Homo sapiens: one gene and its partners. The protein of the gene in region 3 purifies or fractionates together with the protein of the main gene of each other region. This does not show direct contact. Each region holds a gene or a part of one and is shown on either strand. Other genes may lie near its edges.

Region 1 (5,292 bases), on a different chromosome or scaffold from region 3:
TTCAAACCTCTGCTCTCCTCAAACCTGTTCCCTGGCCCTTCCCCTTTTTTAGAGCAAACTTCCTCATACCCCAAATACAAACCTACCTGCCTGGGTGCCCAATCCTTCCTATTTCTCTCCTGTCACAACAGAAGAGACAATGGGACCAATCCACCCACCTAAGCTCTGGATCCCATCTCCTCTTGCCTCTTTCAGGGACCACACCCAGGCAGCACCTCCCTCTCCCACATCTTCATCCTTCCTCTCTACTAACTCCAACCGTCAGCATTTAAGTCCCTTTAACTCTTTCCTCACCTAATAAAACCATACTGGACACCCCTTGCCATCACAGGTATACTCCCCAGCTTCTCTTCAAGCCTGACTTTCTGAAAGCATTGCCCTCTGGCTCCTGATCCCACTGACCAGCTTCCATCAGAGCCACCGGTGACTTCATTGCCAAACCTTTAATGTAAGCTCCTTGGAACACCTGACACTAATGATGTCTCCATCTTTCTTGAAATACTCCTTCCCTTGGGACATCAATGCCCTGTTTCCTCCCACCTCTCTAGCTGCTGTTCCTCTGTAAGTCCCTCAAATGCTGGAGTTTCTCAAAGCTCCATCCTCTTCACACTAGCTGTGATGTTCTTTTTCTTTCTCACAGCCCTAATCCACCTCTGCGCTGATGACCCTCAAATCCTTATGTCTGGCCTGTATTTTCTTCCTTTGTTCCATGTAAATACCCAACCGTCCTACTTAGATCTCTAGTCTTATGTCCCACAGTCACCTCCGACTGAATGTCAATAATCTGAGTGTCTTCTTCTATTCCTCCCTTCTCGATACCCCGCAACCACTAAAGCTTGTTGATATACTTCCTACATGTCCCCTGACTGGTCCCATTGTTTTCTCTCCACCCTCTCCCCTGGATTGCTGCATGACTCCTTTCTATTCTGTTGCCCTTCATATCATCCCTCAACATGGCAGCAAAGAGCTTTTCTCTAAAATACAAATCTGCTCATGTTGCTCCACTGCTAAAGACCTTTTCATAAAGGCTGACTTGCTCAGGATTAAGTCCAAGCCCTGAACCCTGGGTCTTGTGTGACTTGGCCTCACCAACCTGTCCCAAGCTGAGCTCCTGCCTGCAGCACCATGTGAAACCGACTTCTTACAATTCCTGTGATCTGTCACACTTGCTCACCTTTGCACACGCTGCTCTGTCTTCTGGCTAACCCCCTACCCCATATCTCTCATTCTTAGCTCACCTCCTCTGAAAAGCTCTCTCTGGCCTCCCCCTCTCCCTCTCAGCTAGCTAGGTGGCTCCTTTCTGGCCTCAGAGCCCCCTGTGCTGCCTCCTACCATGGCGCTTATCATGTTGTATTGTGCTTGCCTATTACTGACTGGTGTCTTCCTTGAGACCGGGACCTCTATGACGGCAGGAAGAGGTATGTCTCAGTCATCAGCCCAGGTCCTAGAGCAAAGTCTGTCACATAATTGGTAGATTTTGTGGAATCAGATAAGTTAAAAAGGAGGCAAAGAGAAAACAAAGAATGCTGGCAGACAAGTCAAGCCAGAAATAAAGCACTAAATACATACCATGAAGTCCCTGTTAAGGGTTTGCTATTAGTGCAGTGTTTGGCTTTCTAGCCGCACACGCAGAGGGGAAACATGATCAGTTATACAAATGACAATATCCATGAGATAAAAGCCAATAACTGCTCAGAGACCAGAAAGGAATTGCACCTGGGGAACCTCTTGGATTGGTCACAGTGCAATATACTGAACCATGTCCACAAACCATATCCTTTTAGGCTTGTCATAGCTGCTTGGGCTTGTGTCTTATTCTTCTAATTAGCGTTAGCGCTTTGAAGGTAAGTGGGGTCTGTATCTCTTTCTCATTTTGGTATCCCCCACTGAACCGGGCACAACACCTTAAACAGTGTACAATAAATATTACTGTGTACATAGATACTGTGAGGCACATGTAGGCAAATATCAATCAATCAATCTTAGTAATTGACTCCCTGAAAACCTGCTAAATAAAAAAGCAGATTTTCCTTTCTCAGCTTCCCCTACATGCCCATCGGGAGTTTTTTAAGTGTAGCCAAAGGGATCCCCTCAGAAGACAGACAAGGCAATGGCCCGCAGCCAATCAAGAAGGACAGGGAGTTGCCGTGGAGACCACCTGCTGGGAATGGAGCTCACCTGTTGATGCCTTCTACGGCTGACGTCACATTATCATCAATCTGCAGCACAGTCTTATAGTCAACATAGGCCATAGGGTACTTCTCCAGAGCCTCATAAGCAGATGCTCGCCGCAGCAGGGGCTTAATGCTGAAGGGAACCAAGGCCAGTGCTCTAGAATAGGAGGCAAAAATGTCAACTGGCTGGCTGCTGAGCCACCAGGGTTTCCCTACAGTTTCTTCCAGGCAGGGTTATCTGGAGCACTCAGCGTACAGGAAGTAATTTCTGGCCGAGAGACATGGCTAAAAACGCCAAACCTCAGAACAGGGATTTTTCAACGTAGACTGAAGTGAGGAGGAGAAAGAAGGCAGAGAAACATGAATTTTGTTAAATGTGTGTGCACATGCATCAATTTTCATAGTTTCAGTTCCCCCAAAATCAAGAACAAAAGCCTCATGGCTTTCATGCTACTATGTTTTTTTACAGTTGTGGTCTAGTGGGAATAACAAACAAGCTTTGGAGTCAGATGGGGTGGTGTCTGAATTCCACCTCTGCTGCTAACTATGTGACCCAGGTAAATCACTTTACTGCCCCAACCCTCAGCAACCAAGTTCTGGCCTGGGACACATGGTAACCGTACCCCACAGATTGGTTGTGAACACTCAAAGAGGGAAATCTGGCACAAGGCATGGCACAAATTAATTCAGCACAGGCTCTGTGAGTATGCTCACACCCCTCCTGCTCTCCTGGCTATCACCAGGGCAGGAATCTAAAGCAATGTCAGAGGACATCAGATCTGAGAACACATTTCAGGTAAATGTGAGAGTTTAATGATGATAAAAGAATATTAGACTGGCTTGAAGAAAAAGAGATATGAAACATTGTTCAGTGTCCTCTAAAACTGGTCATTCATGAATACCATTTTTTTCCTTTCTCCTTCTGAGACAATCTATTAACCTCTATTCCTCCTTCTTTCCTTCGCTCCCTTCCCCTCACATACTCCCATCCCAGAAAAGCACCTGGGCAAGCCAGTTACTGGTCTGCCACTCCACCTTATTCCCAGGTTTCAAATTGCACAAAGACTTTACGGCCTGCTTCTAACTGCCCATCCCACTCCTTTTTCGGCAGCAGAGCCAAGACTCCAAAGATGCAAGTCACGGGCCATAAGGACCAAATAAAGACTCCCATTCTCAGTGACCTGGTGAAACTCAGTGACACTTTCTTAATATCTGTCCCAGATGTAATTGATGGGATCCTTCCAAAGAAGAAACAAGCCAGATTAACCCAGCCTCCTCTTCTGAGACCCTCAGGCATCCCAAAATTACCCTTGGCCACTTACGAAGTGCAATCTTTGATGCAGTCTCTGCAGTTTCCATCCTTCAAGTGACATGCTGCTCGGTTGGAGTAGAGAACACTTTCTTCTTCTGGGTCTGAAGAACCTGCCCAGATAGAGTGGGGAAGATGATCAGTTTGGAAAATGGGTGCCTCAGGGCATTAGGATACATTTCAAACTCAGAGCTCTTTGGGCCTTGTGTTAAGGCAGTAGAGATAACTATAACCTGTTCAGGCTTGTTGGTCTGCTGGGCTGGCGTGTTTGTCATTCTTATGTGACAGAAGGACACTGCGCTTTTTGCCATTCAAAGGGAACCAAGTATTTCCTCATTCACTCATTCCAGCACTGAACTTGATAACAGACAAAAGATAAACAAGAAATAGCTAGCTTCTGCCTCAAAGAAATCCATGCTGTAACTACTTGGGTTTGGGTGGATAAATGGATGGATAGGTGTGTATTTTATTACAAAAAGCATTTAAATCCAAGAAAGAAAGAAAAAAAAAAAAAGAAAAGAAAGGGAGGGAGGGAGGGAACAAGATGATAAACGTATGATAAATGGATTGACCAAAAGTTGTAGGGGCACAAAACACCCATGAAAGACATGAGACTAGTTTTACCTGGTCAAGCCAGGGAGGACTTTGTCAGGGAAATGATAATTGAGCTGGGTGTGATGGGAGTACAGAGAACTTAATCAGGAAAAAGTCTTAAGCTACCCCATGGGGAGAATTATTAGACATTCTTCTAAGGCAGTCCTTACCCTCAGGAATCGCAGAGGCTCAAGTCCTTCACTGTGGCCACCATGATCTTTATTTACGTATTTTTTTTTGAGACAGAGTCCTGCTCTGTTGCCCAGCCTGGAGTGCAGTGGAGCGATCTCCGCTCACTGCAACTCCACCTCCTGGGTTCAAGCAATTCTCCTGCCTCAGCCTCAGCCTCCTGAGTAGCTGGGATTACAGGCACTCGCCACCACGCCTGGTAGAGACAGGGTTTCACTATGTTGGCCAAGCTGGTCTTGAACTCCTGACCTCAGGCAATCCGCCTGCCTCGGCCTCCCAAAGTACTGGGATTACAGACGTGAGCCACCGTGCCCAACCAACAATGATCTTTATTTTTAAAGATAATTTTCAACCACTTCATACCCACTAGTGTCGGCCATTATTTTAAAAAGAATTGAAAACAGGGTCTCTTTTTGAAAATTTTGAAACATACAGAAGACCATTATCTCAGAATCCACCACTAGATTTAGCACGTTATATTAGTTCCCAACTTTTTTAATTTTTAGAGACAGCGTCTCCCTCTGTTGCCCAGGCTGAAGTGTAGTAGCACAATCATAGCTCACTGCAGCCTCAAACTCTTGGGCTCAAGTGATCTTCCCAGCTCAGCCTACCAAGCAGATAGGACTACAGGTGTGTACCCCCAAGCCCAGTTAATTTTTAAAGTTTTTGTAGAGACAGAGTCCCACTGTGTTGCCCAGGTTGGTCTTGAATGCCTAGCCTCAAGTGATCCTCCCGCTTTGGCCTCCCAAAGTGTTGGGATTATAGGCATGAGCTATGGCACCCAACCCTTAAAAATTTTTTTGATAAGCTAAAACTCCAGCCATCCCCATCCTTATCCCTGTGCTCCCTCCCCAGACTCACAGAGGCCAGTACAATCCTGAAGTTGGTATGTAACATTTTCAAGCATGTTCTACATTTACATATATATGTATATATGTATATGTATATATGTATACATGTACATGTATATATATGTATATGTATATATATGTGTGTGTGTGTGTGTGTGTTAACAGGAAAGATACC
Region 2 (5,292 bases), on a different chromosome or scaffold from region 3:
CCCCATCTCTGCTAAAAATATAAAAATTGGCCAGGCATGGTGGTGTGTGCCTGTAGCCCCAGCTACTCAGGAAGCCAGGGCAGGATAATTCCTTGATTTCAGGAGCCAGAGGTGGCAGTGAGCTGAGATCATGCCACTGCACTCCAGCCTGGGCGACACAGAGCAAGACTCCGTCTTAAAAAAAAAAAAAAAAAAAAAAATCTCTGACTGGTGACATCCTAAGTATGAGTTAAATCTCAGAGCTTTTTTTTTTTTTGACAGCCAAGCTGGAGTGCAGTGGCACGATCTCAGCTCACTGCAACCTCTGCCTCCCGGGCTCAAGCAATTCTCCTGCCTCAGCCCCCAAGTAGCTGGGATTACAGGCGTGTGCCACCACACCCGGCTAATTTTTGTATTTTTAGTAGAGACGGGGTTTCACCATATTGGCCAGGCTGGTCTCGAATTCCTGACCTCAGGTAATCCGCCCGCCTCGGCCTCCCAAAGTGCTGGGATTACAGGCATGAAGCACCGCGCCCGGTCCCAGAGCTATTTTTTTTTTTTTTTTTAAGAAAAAAAGATTCATGAATTTAACTAAAGTTTCTCCATATAGTTGTTTGTTTTAATTTTAGAGATGGGATCTTGCTGTGTTGGCCAGGCTGGTCTTGAACTCCTGGGCTCAAGCTATCTGCCCATCTAGGCCTCCTAAAGTACTGGGATTACAGGCGTAAACCACTGTGCCTGGCCCCTACATAGTTTTTATTTACAGAAGAATGCCAACAAATATAGAAACACAGTTTCAGTCAACACAGTAATAATCAATTCAGCCAACAATCATGCTTGGGTACCTAAATAATTGGGTAAAGACTTTGGGGGAACAGGATTTTTACACAATTTCAAAAGTATTTCCCCACTGATGACTAATTAAAAGCAAAGACAAAGAGACTCTTAGAGTGTAAAAATCTAGTAAATACTATCCTAATTAAATGATTAAAGTTATTATCATTGTTGGACAAAATCACTGCCTTTTGATGTGATGCATTGAAAAGGGCCATATCACCTCAGTAATATTTCTACCAAAGTGTTTACCTGAGTCTCAGCATGAGGAAACAATCAGATAAATCCACATTGAAAGACGTGTAAAAGCGCTGGCCTGGATTCTTCTAAGGGCCAGATATCATGAAAAACAAGGCTAGACAGATCACTTAGTGGAAACCAAACAGACATCACAGCTGCAATGTGTGATCCTCAATTGGATCCTGGCAGCCTAAAAAACAAAAAGATGGCCAGGTGCACTGGCTCATGGCTGTAATCCCAACACTTTGGGAAGCTGAGGTGGGTGGATCACTTGAGGCCAGGAGATCGAGACCAGCCTGGCCAACATAGTGAAACTCTGTCTCTACTGAAAATACAAAAAAACATAGCCAGGTGTGGTGGCATGTACCTGTATTCTCAGCTACTCGGGAGGCTCAGGCAGAAGAATCTCTTGAACTTATCTCACGCCTGTAATCGCAGCACTGTGCGAGGCCAATGTGGGTGGATCACCTGAGGTCAGGAGTTCAAGACCAGCCTGGCCAACATGGTGAAACCCGTCTCTACTAAAAATATAAAAATTAGCTGGGCACGGTGGCTCATACCTGTAATCTCAGCACTTTGGGAGGCCGAGGCGGGCGGATCACCTGAGGTCAGGAGTTCAAGACCAGCCTGGCCAACATGGTGAAACCCCATCTGTACTAAAACTAAAAAAAAATTAGCCGGGCATGGTGGTGTGCGCCTGTAAGCCCAGCTACTTGGGAGGCTGAGGCAGGAGATTCACTTGAGCCAGGGAGGCAGAGTGAGCTGAGATCATGCCACTGCACTCCAGTCTGGGCAACAGAGAGAGACTGTCTCAAAAAAAAAAAAGGAAAGAAAGAAACAACATTGGGTGTTAGTGGTGACACTAGAGATAAAAAGGGGAGAAAGGCTTTTCAGTACTCTGTTTCTCTATATACATTTCCTATTGAAGAAGGCAAGGAATTTCTAATGAAAATTTCTATATATTGATAGCAGCATGATACAGATTTGGGTAGAATTCCAGCTATATATAACATGTCTTTTAAAAAAAGAAAGGGAGGAAATAAAAAGTTAGATGTCAGTGGAAATTTTTTTCAGGCAATGAAAATATGAATTTCTTTTCCTTTTCTCTTTTTTATATTTTCCAAGTTTTCTGTAATGAGTTTACAAAATTTTTCTGATTGACAAAAATAATGACCTTTTTTTAAATGCTTGATACCATTCTTTCTATGGGATTTGTCTCTGTCCCCATCCCTTTTCTCACCCCTCTCCCCACAAAAAGTAGAAAATTCCACAGATATTATTGTTCTGTTACTCATCAGCATGTAAATAACAAGAGGCTTTAAGTATATAAAATATGGCCAGGAGTATGCAATTTGAACAGGAGCACGTACCATTACACTGAAGGAAGAATGCAGAGAGAAGAGAAGGACACGCCCACCTCACCTGCTGCAGTGCCTTTTCCTTTCAGGGGGTCATAGGTGTGCTGTATCTTGTTTTCTGTACTGTTCCAAGCAGACAATCAGTATCTCATGATCCTCTTTCTACTCTTTTTTGTTTTGTTGCTTTTTTTTTTTTTTTTAAAGAATAACTGCACAAAGACTTGCCCACCTGAATAAGTGCTTGATGAACTTTAAGCTAGGGAATTTCAGCTATCAAAAAAACCCACTGAAATTGGGAGAGCTTCAAGGAAACCACTTCACTGTTGTTCTCAGGTAAAGAACTGCAGGTGGGAATGTAGACCAGAGGGTCTGGCCAGGGCATCTTGAGTATGTTACTCACGGTTGGTCATAAGGTCCTGGTGAGCTGGTACTAACAGAACAGGAGTGGCAGCAAGGGAGGGCAGAGCAGGGCCTGGCAGGGCTGGGAGAGCAGATACCTCTGTGAGAGCAAATACCTCTGTAGGATTTGTGTGGACACCTTGCCCCTTGAAAACCTAGTGCAGCCTTTGGAAAGACACCATCTCCTTCAAATATTGTAGTAAAAGACACCGAGCCGGCTGGGCGCAGTGGCTCACGCCTGTAATCCCAGCACTTTGGGAGGCCTTGGCAGGTGGATCACAAGGTCAGGAGATCGAGACCATCCTGGCTAATACGGTGAAACCCTGTCTCTACTAAAAATACAAAAAATTAGCCGGGCGTGGTGGCAGACACCTGTAGTCCCAGCTACTCAGGAGGCTGAGGCAGGAGAATGGCGTGAACCGAGGAGGCAGAACTTGCAGTGAGCCGAGATCGCTCCACTGCACTCCAGCCTAGGGGACAGAGTGAGACTCCAACTCAAAAAAAAAAAAAAGACACTGAGCCTGTGATTCCACTTAAAGCGCCTAGAATAGGCAAATCCATGGACATAGAAAGTAAAATAGTGGTTACTGGGGAAAGGGTAGGGTAGGGGTAATGGAAAGTTACTGTTTAGGGGTACAGAGTTTCATTTTGGAAACGGGAAAAAATTTGGGAAGTAGATAGTGGTGAGGATTGTCCAACATTGTGCATATAATTAACCCATTTATGCTAGTGTTCCATTATTGGAACACTAAGCATGTAGGAATTATTTATATCCTACTGCTCAAGGTCATCGCCAAGGTCTGATTGCAAAAATTCAAAAAATTGCAACCTCTGCCATAAATGGGTTAATACCGCCAAATTGCACACTTAAAAATGGCTAAAATAGTAAATTTGACATTATAAATATCTTACCACAACTTAAAGAAAGAAAGAGCCCTTGGGAGGTAGAGAGAAAGCTGCAGGAGAGTGAACGAAAGACTTGGAAGCCAGGCCGTAGTCATTTATGAGCTGCATCCCTGAGTATTTGACTGTAACTTTTTTTCCTCTGGATAATTTGTGTCCCTGTAGAAATATAACAGGAACTGATGACCAAGTACAGCAAGCTATGAACTCTCTCAAGGAGATTGGATTTATTAACTACTATGGAATGCAAAGATTTGGAACCACAGCTGTCCCTACGTATCAGGTTGGAAGGTTGGTATTTAATTTCTTTTATCAAAAATAGCTTTCTCATAAACAAAGCAGGGTTTGTTGGTGGTGGTGTTTTTAATTATTTCTACGTTCTCCCATGTCTGGGGCAAATGAACCACAGTTTCATGATTTTTGTTTTAAGTTAATGAGTGCACAGGGTAAAAAATCGGAGTTCAAAAGGATATGACCTGAAAAGTGAGCTTTCCTACCACTCTTGGTTACCCATCCAGGGGTTCTATTTTTATTTTTTTATTTTATTTTATATATTTATTTTTTCTGAGACAGAGTTTCGCCCTTGTTGCCCAGGCTGGAGTGCAATAGCGCAATCTCGGCTCACCGCATCCTCTGCCTCCCAGGTTCAAGTGATTCTCCTGCCTCAGCCTCCTGAGTAGCTGGGTTTACAGGCATGCGCCACCATGACTGGCTAATTTTGCATTTTTAGTAGAGATGGGGTTTCTCCATGTTGGTCAGGCTGGTCTCGAACTCCCAACCTCAGGTGATCCCCCGACCTCAGCCTCCCAAACTGCTGGGATTACAGGCATGAGCCTCCACACCCAGCTATTTTTTTTATTTTTTATTTTTTTGAGATGGAATCTTTGTTGTTCAGGCTGAAGTACAGTGGTGCAATGTTGGCTCACTGCAATCTCCACCTCCCAGGTTCAAGCAATTCTCCTGCCTCGGCATCCCAAGTAGCTGAGATTGCAGGCTTTTGCCACCACATCCAGCTAACTTTGTTGTATTTTTAGTAGTGGCGGGAATTTCACCATGTTGGCCAGGCTGGTCTTGAACTCCTGACCTCAAATGATCCGCCTACCTCAGCCTCCCAAAGTGTTGGGATTACAAGTGTGAGCCACTACGCCCAGCCCTATTTTTATTTTTATTTTGTAACAGGTAAGTCTTGGCTCAGTAAGTGATTCAACAGTAATCTGTTGGGTAACTCAGACCCAGAGTAGCCAGACAGAGATGTCACATTTTCTGATCTGTGTTAACACGTTTATTAAACTTTGATCTGCCCTTCCCTCGCTCTTAATTTTATTTTATTTTTTATTTTTATTTTTTGAGATGAAGTCTTGCTGTTGCCCAGGCTGGAGTGCAGTGGTGCCATCTCCGCTCACTGCAACCTCCACCTCCCAGGTTCAAGTGATTCTCCTGCCTCAGCCTCCCACGTAACTGGGATTGCAGGCATGCACCACCTCACCCAGCTAATTTTTGTATTTTTAGTAGAGCCGAGGTTTTGTCATGTTGGCCAGGCTGGTCTCGAACTCATGACCTCCAGTGATCTGCCCGTCTT
Region 3 (5,292 bases):
AAAGGGCTGTGTTATTGGTGTCCCAATTACAAAGGCCAGTTTCTTAGCTCCTCAAGACCTTGTGGTTAACCAGTCTCACTCTGTGTCAGTTGCCACTGGAAGTGTCTGAATGAGCATTTCACAATATTACTTGTGAAAATGCACCTTCCTCATTTTAAAGGAAGTCTGGTTTCGGCAGAAACTCTCAGCTTGCTACACTGAAGACCATTAGCCTTTTTGAAAACTAACATCCCTTCACTTTATTCCAGGGTTGCAGATAAGCTCCCCCGGCCCAACCTCCTGCTACTCAAGCACTTGGTCTATGTGCTGCACCTCATCAGCAAGAACTCTGAGGTGAACAGGATGGACTCCAGCAATCTGGCCATCTGCATTGGACCCAACATGCTCACCCTGGAGAATGACCAGAGCCTGTCATTTGAAGCCCAGAAGGACCTGAACAACAAGGTTTGTTCTGCTTACTGATGAGAAATCCCCAACTTATGATCTCACCATCTGTTTGCCAAGTCCAGGCAATAAAATGCTTCAGAATGTCTCCAACTGACTCAGAATCACAGTGAAAATATAAAATGCAAAATGCTTTTGTCATAGTTCCACTCTCTCAGATACATGTATCTAATGAAACTGAATAAATCCGTGTCTTCTGTCATCTGTGAGACAGATGAGTGCTGCGAGTATTTACATCACTCTCTCCCGATATAAAAAAGCCCTTTTGTTTTTGTGTTTTGTACACCACAGTCTATCAGTCTATCAATCTGGGACACTACTTACTTAAATGAAAATTTTATTAATACTTTAAATTTTTTTAAGTTCTTAAATTTAAAATGCATGTCTCAAAACACCAAGGAGTATCTAACTTTAATGTATGTGATTGTTGGCATGGTGGCTCACGTCTGAAATCTCAGCACTTTGGGAGGCCGAGGCAGGCGAATTGCCTGAGCTCAGGAGTTTGAGACCAGCCTGGGCAACATGACAAAACCCCGTCTCCACTAAAAATAGAAAAAATTAGCCAGGCGTGGTGGCGGGCGCCCGTAGTCCCAGCTGCTCGGAAGGCTGAGGCGGGAGAATCGCTTGAGCCCGGGAGGCAGAGGTTGCAGTGAGCTGAGATCAGGCTACTGCACTCCAGCCTGGTGACAGAGTGAAAGCCTGTCTCAAAAAAAAAAAAAAGTATCTGATTGTTACCAAATTTCTGTATGCTCTTTTCAGACACATAAAGATCTCAGATTCTCATTTTGGCACCTGACTCCAGTGTCCCCATTCTTCCTCACCTCCAAAAAAAAAAAAAAAAAAAAAAAGTCTTCAAGCTGACAAATTGCTTACTTTTCCTCACAGGTGAAGACACTGGTGGAATTCCTCATTGATAACTGCTTTGAAATATTTGGGGAGAACATTCCAGTGCATTCCAGTATCACTTCTGATGACTCCCTGGAGCACACTGACAGTTCAGGTATGGAATGTGCTATCATTTGATTACGATTGTAGGGAAAAGTTCATGCCAGTCTGCCAGTCATGTAAAGCATCTCTGATATTTGAGGCAGAAGTTACCTTCACAAATCACCGAGTCAGACTAGACTCCAGTCCATTAGGAAGTCATTAAACATGAAAACCCTGCTCCGGGCTTTTCCTGCAGCGCCTCCTCAGACCACAGATAGTCTTTCCCCCTTCCCAGTGTACATCGCAAATCACTGCTGATTTCACTAAGCTACCTTTAGCTCTGGAGTTGGAGTGAGAAACTTTTGTTTCCACTTCATGGGATATGACTCCATCACAATGAAAATGGGTCCAGTAAAAGGAGCAGTTTTAAAAATTAAGGTCAATACATTTTCAGTGAAATGCTGTTCTCTCTTTTCTTATTCTCTCCTCTCTTTCTCTCCTTCCTCCCTCCTTTACTCATTTCCTTTCCCTATTTTTCTTCTGATCTCAAAATAAATTCAGAAAGAAATAAACTTTTCATGTGGTACATTTCTTGTCATATCAAGCCCCTAAGTAGTTCTGCTAATAAATCACCTAGTGCCCTGATTGGTATGAGCAGGGCGAACTGTAGCAAAGTTCATTTCTAAAAGAACCTAAATGGCCGTGTGTGGTGGCTCACGCCTATAATCCCAGCACTTTGGGAGGCCAAGGCAGGCAGATTACCTGAGATCAGGAGTTCAAAAACAGCCTAGCCAACATGGTGAAACCCCGTCTCTACTAAAAATAGAAAAAATAGCCAGGCATGGTGGCGGGCACCTGTAATCCCAGCTACTGAGGCTGAGGAAGGAGAATCACTTGAACCCGGGAGGTAGAGGTTGCAGTGAGCCGAGATCACATCACTGCACTCCAGCCTGGGCAACAAACCGAGACTCCATCTCAAAAAATGAAAATAAAAAATACAAATAAAAATAAATAAATAAATAAACCCAAACAAATGTTCAACTGCTGCTTGACTTCCCCCAGATGTGTCGACCCTGCAGAATGACTCAGCCTACGACAGCAACGACCCTGATGTGGAATCCAACAGCAGCAGTGGCATCAGCTCTCCCAGCAGGCAGCCCCAGGTGCCCATGGCCACAGCTGCTGGCTTGGATAGCGCGGGCCCACAGGATGCCCGAGAGGTCAGCCCAGAGCCCATTGTGAGCACCGTGGCCAGGCTGAAAAGCTCCCTCGCACAGCCCGATAGGAGATACTCAGAGCCCAGCATGCCATCCTCCCAGGAGTGCCTCGAGAGCCGGGTGACAAACCAAACACTAACAAAGAGTGAAGGGGACTTCCCCGTGCCCCGGGTAGGCTCTCGTTTGGAAAGTGAGGAGGCTGAAGACCCATTTCCAGAGGAGGTCTTCCCTGCAGTGCAAGGCAAAACCAAGAGGCCGGTGGACCTGAAGATCAAGAACTTGGCCCCGGGTTCGGTGCTCCCGCGGGCACTGGTTCTCAAAGCCTTCTCCAGCAGCTCGCTGGACGCGTCCTCTGACAGCTCGCCCGTGGCTTCTCCTTCCAGTCCCAAAAGAAATTTCTTCAGCAGACATCAGTCTTTCACCACAAAGACAGAGAAAGGCAAGCCCAGCCGAGAAATTAAAAAGCACTCCATGTCTTTCACCTTTGCCCCTCACAAAAAAGTGCTGACCAAAAACCTCAGCGCGGGCTCTGGGAAATCGCAAGACTTTACCAGGGACCACGTCCCGAGGGGTGTCAGAAAGGAAAGCCAGCTTGCCGGCCGAATCGTGCAGGAAAATGGGTGTGAAACCCACAACCAAACAGCCCGCGGCTTCTGCCTGAGACCCCACGCCCTCTCGGTGGATGATGTGTTCCAGGGAGCTGACTGGGAGAGGCCTGGAAGCCCACCCTCTTATGAAGAGGCCATGCAGGGCCCGGCAGCCAGACTAGTGGCCTCCGAGAGCCAGACCGTGGGGAGCATGACGGTGGGGAGCATGAGGGCGAGGATGCTGGAGGCGCACTGCCTCCTACCCCCTCTTCCACCTGCTCACCACGTAGAGGACTCAAGACACAGGGGCAGCAAAGAGCCACTCCCTGGCCACGGACTCTCTCCCCTGCCTGAGCGATGGAAACAGAGCAGAACTGTCCATGCTTCTGGGGACTCTCTGGGGCACGTGTCTGGCCCAGGGAGACCTGAGCTCCTCCCGCTGAGGACCGTCTCCGAGTCCGTGCAGAGGAATAAGCGGGACTGTCTCGTGCGACGATGTAGCCAGCCGGTCTTTGAGGCTGACCAATTCCAATATGCCAAAGAATCGTATATTTAGGAGGGAGGCCATACGCCATGCCATAGCTTGTGCTATCTGTAAATATGAGACTTGTAAAGAACTGCCTGTAGATTGTTTTTAAAAGGTCTTGAATAAGCTCCTTGAGAAAGTTGTGGAAAGCCCTCCTCAGTGAGGATAGCTACACCATGGCCATGGCGCATCAGATAGTCTCTGTGTACCTGGATTTGTGCAATATGTAAAAATGTATCAAATGTATTATAGATAAGGTGTTAGGTGCAAAGGATGTCTAATAATCCCTGCACACGTTTTGAACTTGCAGTGAAGTACACTGCTGTTCCTTGCTTCCTGGGGCACTTTTCTCTTGGTTAGTGTTTAAAAATTATCTTCGCTTTTTTAATGTGGCCTCAAATGTCATGCCAATTTTCACATCTTCCACAAACTCCATTTAGGGAGAAATGTTTAAATCTCTGGTATAAGTTTACTCCATACCAGAGTAAACTATATATTACTCTATATAAGCAGTCTTGCAATAACTAATCACCACCATAGAAGAAAGAAACAGACTGCAAGGAACAGAGTTGAGTGTCTGGAGTCATCAAAGGCATTAAAAACTCCAGTAAAAGCTGGGGCCGTAGCAAAAATCATGAAAAACACTTCAACGTGTCCTTTCAATCATCCAATTAAATGTGGGTAGATTAATGAAAATGTATTACATCAATATTAACTCATCTATAGCACTTTGAGTATCTTTGTAGTTCATGATATCCTATCCTATAATGTGGAGGTAAATGATTTTATATGCATTGGGGGTCATATATAAAACTTCAATGTAATTTCACTACAATAAATTGCCTTCCTTATTTGAAAGTAAAAATGTTCTTTTTTTATTGACATGTTAACTCCTTTCCCTCAATTAATAGAAATCCACTAAGAAAATCATTCACATATTGGTTCACTCAACAAGCATTTATTAAATATATATTCACTATTCTAGACTAATAGCAAGACCGGGGATCTTGTTTAGGAAGAAGCAGTCCCTGTTCTCCAGAATTTGCAAAACCATTAAAAAAGCACCTACTTTAAGCCATTTTTTTTCAGCAAGGAGTCATTCTGCCAGAAAAATGTAGTACACAAATACAGGATAATATAACAAATGTAAAATTTCTCATTTCTAGTGAATTAAACTTTCCAGTAATTTTACATCTCACCTCATTCTTATGATGCTCAGTTTGCTTAATTATTGGCAAACATAATGGTAAAATGTTTGTACTGTATTAGAGCTTTACTGTTCGATTATTAAGATATTTATCCAGTATCTTAGAGATGCTGGACTTCAATTTTCCTTATTTTATCTTTTTAAAATAAAATATCATGCATGCTTCTGATTTGTTATAGAAATATTTTGTGTTGAGTCTTTTCGGAGATGATTTATCAATAATGGGCAAAGTTAATAATGTTGTAAAATAGACTGCTCAAGGCAGCATACTCAGACCTAATATTAAAAATACTTTATTGATGGGCCAGGTGTGGTGGCTCACACCTGTAATCCCAGCACTTTGGGAGGCCGAGGTGGGCAGATCATTTGAGATTGGGAGTCTGA
Region 4 (5,292 bases), on a different chromosome or scaffold from region 3:
ACAGGTATATTTAGGACTTTAAAAAATGATCTTGAACACTATAAGTTGGTTAAAGGTTTATTATTTTAAAAATCTTTTTAACAGTATGGAGGTTTGAAGAATATTGTAGCCTTGTATTATAATACAAGAATACTTGGATTGTTTTATTAGTAGATAATTACCATTACAGAAATCAAAAGTTTTGATAGCAACAGTGAAGAAGATAATTTTTCTAGAGGGTTGGGAGTTCAATTAATAGAATGGTTTATGCTGGGCATCATAAGAAGTTTATATAAATTCAAACTGTAGCCTAAATGAGGGCCAGCCTGTGGTTTGAATTCTCAGGAGGGAGGCTTTTGTTTTGTTTACTTTCCCCACCCAAAGTCCAGGCTGACTGACAGACAAACTTCCTTATTGTTTCTTTTTGCCTATTGACAGTTCTTTCCGGGCCCCCATTATATTGAAGATGTCATCCCTTGGGGCCTAAAGCCCTGTCTTTTTTCTCTCTCTGAGGATCCGTGAAAACCCAAGGGTGAAAACCCAAGGCCGTTCAGCTTGTGGAGATTGGCAGTGACCCCTGACTTCTCCCCGGCCTCGCCCCAGCCCAAGCCTTGGCACCTGCTTACTGCTCGGGTTTTAGGGTATTCTTTGGTTTTTGACTCATGGGATTTCTCTTACTGTCTTGTAGGGCAGGAGGCTTTTAGATTGTGTAGTTTGCATTACCACTGGAAACAAAAATTATGATGTTTTTCAAACTGGGTGAGGGCAAAATTTGTCACAGTTCTTAAGAGTGTGCTATTATTTTCTGGTTAGAAAGCTTCGTATGATAATCCCTACAATCGTCAAGGTGAAACCGTTTCTTGTTCCTGAAGTAAGACTCCAAAGCTGAGTTTCTCCTCATTGTGCCTTACCTTCAAGGTTAGAGAGAAGTCTAGATTTTAATTTGTATGCCTGTTTAACTTTCTCCCCTCGTCTTTCTTGTTAGGAGAAACAATTGCAGCACTTACAGACATAACCAACTTGAACCATCTGGAATCTGATGGGCAGATCACAATTTTTACAGACAAAACAGGAGTGATAAAGGCTGCAAGATTACTTCTTTCTTCAGTGACAAAAGTGTTGTTGCTGGCAGACCGAGTAGTCATTAAACAGATAATAACATCAAGAAATAAGGTACTTACCTTTCTGATGTTGCTGTATTTTTGTCTTTCTGTGTTGTTCAAAGTGCTTTTTATGACTCTTAGTGGTGGATTGCTTGGCTTGTGTGTCGATGAAGAATGCAGCTAGCTGTGGGAATTAATGTGCAATGCAGGATACATTGACACACTGATCATCTGTACGTTGAATGCACTTGTGGCCCTGGGTTCCTCCCGGGGCTATGCATGTCTGAGCGTTGCTTAAAAAAAAAAAAAAAGAAAAGTTCTTTTTAGGTTAATTGTAAGTAATTTGGCAATGCTTGTCTATTATAATTGTTTATAACTCTGTCTGTAGTTTAAAAGTAGTGTTTCTTCTATATGTGCAATTCTTAAATGATGGGTATGCTGTGCCTAAACTTTTGAATGCAAGTAATGTCTCCTCTTAGAGAATCATTATCCACTTGTTAAGGCTTATTGGTAAAAGCTTTAAATGTGTACAACATTTGGAAAGAAAAGGTGAGCACTATGATAATGTATGTAGCAGAAACCTAGTTGATAAAAATACTGAATTCTTCTGTACTTTTTTTCCCTCCCAAATCAGAGACTAACAATATATAACTTAAGACACAGTTAAATCAGTGGAAATGATAATTATCCACAACTACAAAATTTCTGTACTCAGAGTCCCTAAATGTTACTGAATAATCTCAAAACTTACAGAACAGATTTAAACTCTTCCAGTCCAGAAGTTAATCTCTCAGATGATGGTCATGCTCCATGATCATCTGGGAATCCAGGGTATGTACGATCACTTCTTGCTTTGGATAATTCCCTAGGCAAAGAGGAGAGCAGTTGGCCAGGGAAGGAGTTGTCCTAGAGGATTTGAGGATAAAACCACTTGATAAGTGTTGAATGAATCAGAAATTGGAGAGGTGGATCTGGCAGCGCTGGAGAAATACAAACAACCTTCCCCTCTTTGAAAGATGGAGGTTCTCACAGTGGTGGCAACGTGCCTTATCAGTGTTAGTCGCCTGAACTTCCTGAGCTGCCAGGGCAGATTAACATGCCAAATATTCATCATATTCTCAGGAAAAATAAGTAAACAGAGGATATCTGTGTTTTTTTTTAACTTATCTTGTTGCGACTAAAACAATCTAATAATGTTATTTTAAAGAAAAGTATTTGAAAATATGTTTCACATCTATTTACTTTGTTTCTTACATCAAGAAAACACATAACATTTTAGTCACTGGCTCTACCAGATTCACACACTCTTTATTCACCCCTGATGGCCCATTCCTGACTGAGCCAGACTAATTTTCCCACCCTTAAAGTCCCACACTTCCCTTTCGACTCTATACTCTGAAGATGATGAGGTTCCTTCTGCTTTCCTGAGAATGTTAGGGTTCCTATCATCCTGGTTCACTGAACCTTAAAGCTTGTGTGTGCTGACTTTCATCCTCACCCCTTCCCAGTTCTCTGAAGATTTGATTACTGTGGTCCTGCCCATTCCCACCTTTTAGACTTGGCTACATAAATGATCCCTTCCTTTGTATATGTAGTCATTTCTTTTATTCTTTTTCCTTTTCCTTTTCAAGTAACTCAAAATCTCATCATATAAACAAATCATTCCCCTAATAATTCTGTGCCTTGAATCTACTTCTACTTCTCTGAGCATCCCCTTGTGTGTCTTCTATCTGGCTCCTCCTCCTCAGCTTTCACCTAGAATTCAGAATTTTCCTTTTCTTCTCTCTACTCAGCCTTGACAATCTCAGTCTCTTGAGTAGCTCTCACCAAATAATGAATTATTATCTGTTTTGCAGGTTCTCGCAACTATGGAAAGACTAGAGAAAGTGAATAGCTTTCAAGAGTTTGTCCAAATATTCAGTCAATTTGGAAATGAAATGGTGGAGTTTGCACATCTGAGTGGAGATAGACAAAATGTATGTATTCATCACATTTTACAATCTTCAGATAAATACATACTTTTTAGTTTGGATGGAGGTATGATCGTTAGGATTGTTTGGACTGGTTTCTTTGCTTATTAAGTCTATAGCCTTGGTCTTGAAAGCCTTTCATAGATAAGCCAGGATAAAGTAAGTAGATCTATATGTCTTTTTTTGTACATTTATAACAGTTAATTTTGTTCCCACCTCACACACTGGGAAAGGTCATACTTGCTATCAGGGCTCAACTCAAGTACTTCTTCCTTTTATTTGGTTACTTTCTCTTTTATGAAGCTTTCCATTTGATTCCTCTACTAGGGCTCAGGCACATAAAATTGAGTCATCATATGTATTCTTATAGTATCTTGTTAGATATTTGTTATTCTTACCGTATTAGATTAATAGTAATAACCCAAGCCATTATTTATTTGCACTGCCTATGTGTTAGGTACTTAATATACATGATCTCATTTAATTTTCAAAACATCCCTATGAGGTAGGTATTGTTAACTACTGTTTTACATATAGGGAAACTGAACCTGAGACAAGGATAAACTTTCCCAAGGTCACTGTGCTAGCAGATCGAACTCAGTTATATCTGATTCTAAAGTCTGTAGTTCTCAAACTACAACATGATATTTGTTTTTTATTTTATTTTATTTTATTTTTTCTGAGATGGAGTCTCTCTCTGTCACCCAGGCTGGAGTGCAGTGTCGTGATCACGGCTCACTGCAACCTCCACCTCCTGGGTTCAAGTGATTCTCATGCCTCAGCCTCCCGAGTAGCTGGGACTACAGGCATGCACCACCACGCCCAGCTAACTTTTTGTATTTTTAGTAGAGACAGGGTTTCACCATGTTGGCCAGGCTGGTCTCGAACTCCTAATCTCAGGTGATCCGCCCGCCTCAGCCTCCCAAAGTGCTGGGATTACAGGCGTGAATCACCGTGCCCAGCCAATATTAGTTCCTTATGGGTCTGTTCCCCAATTCAGACAGTAAGCTCCTCAGTTTTGGGAGATGGAAGATCATATTATGTCTAGGATTGACTTTTCCTTGTTGGGGTATTTGTGTAGGAGTCTGTCTTGTTGGCAGGTTAAATATATATAATAATTGACCATTTCTTGGGATGGTTCTGGGTGTAGTCCCATAGGCTAGTCTCTCAGTTTTTGATATGAACTTTCCCAATTGCAGCTGGAGTTGAAAAATGGGTATTGGTCTGGCAAGTGGCAGGCTAAATAATGGCATTGGTTTGTAATACCAATGGTGTTTCTATAGGCAGGTACTTTATTGTTTCATTTTCTGTCTGCCATTATTGTTCTTTATAAAACAAATTTTCTTTCTTTTCCTTCTCTTTCTCTTAATCTTCCTTCTTCTCCTCATTCTCCCCAATGATAATTATTAGCCTGAGTATTTTTATAATAATAGTAGCTTATAATCTAGCATTTTCTTGATCACTTGAGCAAGCGTGGCATGAGTCATAGGTTCTAAAGCTACCATCCTTCAGTTACACTTCCTACAGGATCCTCTTCAGCTTCTGGACATAACTGAAAAACTTTCACCATCATTTTGATTTGTAGTTAGAAATTTGGCATGGAGAACATTTTATTTTTCTCAATTCTTGTAATATTGTGATCCAACATTTAAAAACTTCTGGCTGAAGTGGTATCTATTTTTAGCAATTTAGCTCATTAAATGTGGGACCCCTGAAACTTACTGGCAGCCTTTTTATCATCTGTGTTTGATAAGTGCTACTCCTGGGTCACTTTTTTGGAATATGCATCCAGGGTTCAAATGCTTTCTCCTTTAGAATAGTCAAAATATCCTGCAAAGAGCTATAGGTCAGGTGCATTCTCAGTTTTCTCAGCAAATATTCATCAGCTGCTTACTGTTAACCAAATACTACACTAGGTGTTGAGGATTCAACAGTAAATAAAAGTGACAAAAACCTCTGCACTCATGGAGCTTATGTTTTAGTAGGGGTGGGAGGAGATAGACAATAAAACAGAAACATGCATGGTGTGTTCAAAGAACACGAAGGCCAATGGATGGATCAAAGTGAGCAAACGGGAAGGGTAATAAGATGAAATCAGAGAGGTAGTGGGCAGGCCAAACTGTGTAAGGACTTTGGCTTTAAGTAAAATGGGGAGCCATTGGAGGTTTTGAGTAGGAGAATGACGTTTTCTGACTTACATTTTAACAGTATCACTCTAGCTGCCATGTTGAGAATAGTTT

The links.
Region 1: the proteins of TAGAP (region 3) and TOMM34 purify together in Homo sapiens (affinity purification with mass spectrometry; one large-scale study listed by BioGRID and IntAct). This does not show direct contact.
Region 2: the proteins of TAGAP (region 3) and PUS7 purify together in Homo sapiens (affinity purification with mass spectrometry; one large-scale study listed by BioGRID and IntAct). This does not show direct contact.
Region 4: the proteins of TAGAP (region 3) and CTNNAL1 purify together in Homo sapiens (affinity purification with mass spectrometry; one large-scale study listed by BioGRID and IntAct). This does not show direct contact.

The regions. Positions count from the first base shown.
Region 1 is NC_000020.11:44,952,890-44,958,181, forward strand, and holds part of TOMM34 (mitochondrial import receptor subunit TOM34), read right to left. Parts: intron 3,597-5,292; coding exon 3,497-3,596; intron 2,732-3,496; exon of another isoform or gene 2,332-2,731; coding exon 2,179-2,331; intron 1-2,178. UniProt on the Homo sapiens protein: Plays a role in the import of cytosolically synthesized preproteins into mitochondria. Binds the mature portion of precursor proteins. Interacts with cellular components, and possesses weak ATPase activity.
Region 2 is NC_000007.14:105,479,764-105,485,055, reverse strand, and holds part of PUS7 (pseudouridylate synthase 7 homolog), read left to right. Parts: intron 1-2,615; coding exon 2,616-2,744; intron 2,745-3,878; coding exon 3,879-4,004; intron 4,005-5,292. UniProt on the Homo sapiens protein: Pseudouridylate synthase that catalyzes pseudouridylation of RNAs.
Region 3 is NC_000006.12:159,034,266-159,039,557, reverse strand, and holds the end of TAGAP (T-cell activation Rho GTPase-activating protein), read left to right. Parts: intron 1-248; coding exon 249-444; coding exon of another isoform or gene 445-462; exon of another isoform or gene 463-653; intron 654-1,329; coding exon 1,330-1,444; intron 1,445-2,433; coding exon 2,434-3,731; 3' UTR 3,732-5,077; downstream 5,078-5,292. UniProt on the Homo sapiens protein: May function as a GTPase-activating protein and may play important roles during T-cell activation.
Region 4 is NC_000009.12:108,988,492-108,993,783, reverse strand, and holds part of CTNNAL1 (alpha-catulin), read left to right. Parts: intron 1-964; coding exon 965-1,152; intron 1,153-1,160; exon of another isoform or gene 1,161-1,375; intron 1,376-1,833; exon of another isoform or gene 1,834-1,947; intron 1,948-2,938; coding exon 2,939-3,058; intron 3,059-5,292. UniProt on the Homo sapiens protein: May modulate the Rho pathway signaling by providing a scaffold for the Lbc Rho guanine nucleotide exchange factor (ARHGEF1).